Linked DNA regions of Homo sapiens: region 2 is linked to region 1. Evidence: fine-mapped expression QTL. Tissue or cell type: whole blood. Region 1 holds a variant in brackets; the other region holds the start of a gene. All regions are shown on one strand. Distances are between the middles of the regions.

Region 1 (2,758 bases):
GAAAAAAGTTTTCCTTCCTCTTTCTTCTACCTCAGGCCTCTCTGCAGCTCAGTGCCTAGGGGAAGAGGAGCCCAGTGACTGAGCTGGAGTCACACGCTGGAAGCTGCCTTCAGACCAGACCCTCCCTAAGGGTCCCTCTCTAGCCAGGCTGGCCAACAGCCTTGCTCCCCCGGCTGCCCCATGGGCCTGGAGGGGTTCTGTGGGTGCACACCCGCTGCTGGCTACCCCTGCCGCCGGCACTCATCTGAGCTGTCGAGCTGTGTAGGGATTCCATTCAGAGTGCTCCAGTAAGGGACTGGCCCCATAGCTCCAGCAGCAGATGGGCAAAGAGGCCTAAGAATTCAGCAAAAGGGGAAGTACATCCAGCCTTAAATTCTCCAGGCTGTGCCATCCCCTTTCAAATGCAGACTGCCTTTGTTTGTTTTCTACTACTAATATAACATGAGGACAGGCTCATAAAAAATAATAAAAGGGCAAGAGATGAGTAGGAGACAGGGTCCTCACAGATCCCTTTGTTCCTGGCCTTATCCCCAAACTGCTTGCCTCCATGTGGCAGAGCTGAGCTGCAGGGTCTCTGGCAGGGTCCCACTGCCCTGGTCTCCCCAGTGCCTGCTCCTCATCAACTTTCCCTCATGACATCCAGCCTCCACCTGACCTTCCTCTTTTGATTCTAACCTTTAATGGGTGCTGGCCCATCACTTGTGTGTCCTATGTTCTCTATGCCCCTCCTCAGATTTCTGATCCCCCCCATTACCTGTTTCACCGACTTATGGCACTGCCACACTGCCAAGAATAGCCATCATCACTGAGGTCTGCTTCCTAGTCTGGAGCTCTCACTTGCCCCACAACCGAGATTGTTCGAGGTAGGAGCCTCTACCGTCCATTCACATACCCCATACCCTACATCTTTCCAGAATCAACACAGCCAATCTCCCCTTAGCAAGTAAAAAATATTCATGTCCTTCCTTTGTATGACCCCTTACTGGGAATCCAGAGATCATGATGCTTAGGTCTTGTAAGTGGTCTCCGTGGATAGGGTGGGAAGAGGCCACATTGGTCTTCTGAAGTCCTAACTCTCTTTGCTAAAAGATACTCTTTTGAAAATGGCTCTGCACGCTGCCCATGCTCAATCTGGGGTGTCCTGGCTGTGCTGGAGCACTGACTGCTGACCTCACATTGCAGGCCCCAGTGTTTGCCACTGCAATGAGCAGCCTCTCCTGCCTCCCCAGCTGCACACAGGCCCAGGTGGGGCTGGGCTGTCCCCAAGCAGGCCACGGGAAGGTGGAGGCAAGAAGATCATCGGGAAGCCATGACAGTCAGACAAGCAGCAGCAGATGGGGATGTGCACTGGGTGGAGTGGACAAATAGCACGAGGAAAATCAGCTTT[G/A]GGGACAGAAAAAGCCAAGTGGGAAGTGTAATAAATACTAAAACCAGAAAAGCCTGAAGACAGTCCATCTAGGGAGCAGCAGGAGGATGGCTAACATCACTGGAGTTTAGGTCGAAGGGGAGGACAGCAGGAGGGGTCGAGGTGGTCAGTATTCCAGGGGCTAGGGACAAGAGAAATGGCACAACATAAGTCTCTCGGGAAGGGTCACTCACCTTCCAAGCTGTTGGACTCATTGGCTGCCACAAGAAGAATCTATTTAAAACACACCAGGCATTTTGCCTCATTCTGTTTCCCTGCCCAGAAAAGGCTGGAGCCGAAGGCTGAGGGAGAGGGAAGGATTCCAGCATCAGGACCCTGCATGGATGACATGGCTGAGACCATTCAGGATGGGGAAGATCCCTGCTCCATCCTGAATGACCCACACTTACATCCCCCACCCCCACCTAAGCTGCCAGGCCACTAAACTCCTCGCATATTGAACACAGTCCCAAAGGCAGCTTGTGGTACCATTTCCACTGGGAAATACTCAATGGCTTCCTTCATCCTGTTTTCAAGCTTGTCAGAAAGCAGATGCTGCTCAAATCTGACAGCTGCTCTTAAGGGCACGCTCAAAGGGCACTCCCTGACCAGTGGGAATATTCTTAATGATGACTGAGAGGCCTTGGGTGTTTAGACTATGGCAAGACAAAGGAGCGAGCATGAAAGGGCATCAAGGGTAAAATGGCCCTAGGGAAACCATACGGGACTTGAATTGGAAAACACCAACAGCCTCGCTCCTTTCTCTGGACTGTGTATCTTTGGGAAGTTCTAATTTGGAGAAGACCTGACTCCTTATCCACCTGCCACAGAGAAAGTATTAATAAAATATGAGGCTAGGGTCTATGAGAAGTGGCCCAGGAAAGCCATCTATGCAAATTTTGTTTCCTTCCTACTTGAGAGGGTTGGGGATGAGAGGTCCTTCCTTCCCTGGCTCATAAGCCCATGAGTTGTGTAAAACACTGTTCAAGAAGGCAGAATATAAGCCCTCTGTTGTGCATGATATTCATATTCTTGAAAGAATTAGTGTATAAATCAAATTTTACCTGCCAGAGAAGCTGGCTTTTCAAAATAAATTTGAAGTCAATCCTATGTTTAAACAGAAGGATGGCTTGTAAAGGTGAATAACCATCCTAGGTCACAATTTGCAAATTGGGAACTCTGAATGTCTGACTTGGATGGTGGGGCAGGGGGTTCTGTCTAGAGATTAATCTATGGTTTGCTTTTAGGTTGCAACTAAGCATTACTTTAAAACAAACAAAAGACTGAGTTTTTAAAGAACATTTTTAATGGAAAATTTCAAATATATATATATATATATATAGAGAGAGAGGG
Region 2 (2,621 bases), 59 kb after region 1:
ATTCCTAAATCCCCATACTCTCCCACCCAGCAATTCCACCTGCAGGTACCCATCCTTGAGAAATGCTCTCACATGGGCTCTCACAGAGGTGTGTGGGAAGGATGTTCTCCGCCATACTGTGTCTAACAATGAAAAACTGGAAACAATCTATGGAATCTTACATAACCATGGAATTTACAGAGCAAGTAGAAAGAATAGGTAGATCTCTAGGTACTGACAAAGAAAAAATTCCAAGACCCGTTTTTAAGCATAAAACGTCAAGTTGTGTAATGCATAAAACATGCATATTTGTAAAAGTTTAAAGCGAAATCTTACAAACATATATCTTATACGTACACATACTTGTCAAATAAATGCAAAGAAAAATACACACAAACTGACAACAGTTCTTATTTTGTGGGAAAGGGACTGGTAAAGAAGGTGGAGATGGAAAAAAACAAAATCAAAGAGGATCTGTCTTCCACACTCCCCACCCTCACCACCAAGAACATCAAGCTAAGAAAGATCTGTGTTTAAAATTTTTACATAATTTTGTTACAAGGCTTTATGCACGGACTATAACTAGAATATTTTAAAAATACATTTTTAAAACAAGCTCAACTTGACCAAATTTAATCCATCTTCCCCGCTGCGCCCCAACCCGCACTTCCTAATTCCTATGATTAACAAAACCTTTCAATTCCTTCTATCCTTGGAACAGAACTAAGAAAATAAAGTATAATTTCAATTTTGTGTTTTTGAGGAGAGGGTATATAAAGGAGTTTGAATGTTGGAATCATATCAAAAGCTTATCGGGGGATTGGTTTGTTTGTATTTTAAGGAGCAGATGTCAATTTTGTAATAAATAATGATTAAGGTTCTTAGTTTTGATCCATCCCAGGGATGTGAAAAGCCAAAGAGGTGGCTCCCGGCAAGGCCCAGAGCAGGGTGTGGTCTGGGAGGACAGGGATGGTAGCGAGGGTGGCGGCTCACACGAATCCAGGAGAGAAAACAGCAGCTGTTGCCGCGTCGAACCCGCAGCGCCCGAGGAGCTACCAGGTGCCGCGGGCGGGGCCTCCTTTTTAGCTGACTGGGACACGCAGCCTCGAAGGTCTGGTAGAGTCTCCCAGGGAGAGGGTAAGGGGGTCGAAAGGAGAGGCCCAAGGAGGGCGTGGGAGGCCGCGGGCAGGGGTGAGGCCCTCCTTGCGCACCTGGGTGCTGAACCGCCCCGCCGTGTGCGACGGGGGCGAGGGGGTCACGCCGAGGGGCGGGGAGAGGGGCAGGGCCAACTCGCTCCGGGACAGCGGGGGCCCCGCAATGTCACCCCCGTACACGGTAATATCCCCCCGCTCCACGACCCCTCTTAGTCTGCACTGGAAGCACCCCCTGCCCCGCGCACAATCCTGGTGCAAGGCTTCGCCGGCTTCTGAGCCTCACTTACCTGCTGTCTCGGACTGGGCCGCACACCTGCAGCGGGCTCACGTTAAAGACCTGGAACCTGTGCGGCCGCCTGCGCGCACCCACCCGGATTCACTAGGGCCGTAACCACTTCCGTTCCTGCGACAGGCCTGGAGGACGTAATCCCAGCTGGCGTGTGGGAACGGGCAACGCCATTTTGTACGGAAGCTACTGGGGCAGGTGATGCCTACCCAGTCTCTCTCCTCTGTTGAACAAAGGATCTGTTAAAATTGGAAGGGCTTAACGTCTTCTTCAGAAAAGTGACGCATTTGTTACTGGGATGGTATGTTTGTGTTTTGGTTTTGGCTTTGAAGGGAGAAACCTCCAGAACTCTCACAAATGTAATATGGGACATCGAATTTTCCTTCTTTAGTATCCTGCGTACTGTTTTTCTGCTAAACGATAACAGTAAATAGAAGGAAAGACACTGTATTTAAATAATGTAGTCTTCATTAGCAGTGCACATTATCCTATAGCCACTATAATAATTTTATGTACCCTCCTTTTTTTTTTTTTTTTTTTTTTTTGTAGATACTGTCTCCCTACATTGCCTAGGCTGGTCTCGAACTCCTGGGCTCAAGCGAACCTCACAACTCGGCCTCCCAAAGTGCTGGGATTACAGGCGTGAATGCCCAACCTATGCCATCTTTTATAGCGATAACCACAATACTTTTTGTTTATATATTAAATCGTTCATCCAATCAGTCTTTATTAGCAATTATATGTGAGGCAGTTAATCTGTGCTACATGCATGCTTTTCCTTTCTCATGGAATGTGTAAAACAGAAGGAGAAATGAGATGTGCATAAATAACCAATATAAGGTATAATAATAGCTACCATTTGTTGACTTTGTGCTCACCTGTTGCTAGGAACTTTGCAAAGCATTTTACTTATTTTTTCTCCTTTAATCCCCATAACAACCCTGTGAGGCAGTACTATTATTAGTGCCGTTTTACATAAAATAGAAAAAGGTTAAATAACTTCCTCAAGGTAATTCAGCAAGTAAGCACCGGAGTTAGGAATCAAACCTCATATTTCTGATTGCAGAGCATGTGGCCCCATCCTTTATACTATATTGCCTTCAATACAGGGGCAAATGTTTTAAATTCCATTGAATGAGTACCCATGGGGGAAATTTCCAGCTATTATAGAGGATTAACTCCCTGAATTTTTATCTGCTCCA

Evidence for each region. PIP is the estimated chance that this variant, and not a neighbour inherited with it, causes the effect.
Region 2: EXD2 starts here. The variant in region 1 is fine-mapped to the expression of EXD2 in whole blood (TOPMed, PIP above 0.99).

What each region holds. Positions count from the first base shown.
Region 1 is chr14:69,249,055-69,251,812 of GRCh38, reverse strand. The region is part of intron 2 of GALNT16-AS1 (GALNT16 and EXD2 antisense RNA 1); the gene reads left to right. Among named protein-coding and RNA genes, the nearest start is that of GALNT16, 9.7 kb to the left of the region's middle. The variant G/A (reference allele first, on the strand shown) is at 1,388.
Region 2 is chr14:69,190,391-69,193,011 of GRCh38, reverse strand. It overlaps EXD2 (exonuclease 3'-5' domain containing 2), which reads right to left and starts at 1,514. Exons shown (of 10, transcript NM_001193360.2): 1 at 1,421-1,514. All of the region lies in intron 3 of GALNT16-AS1 (GALNT16 and EXD2 antisense RNA 1), which reads left to right. RefSeq lists a silencer at 1,104-1,293.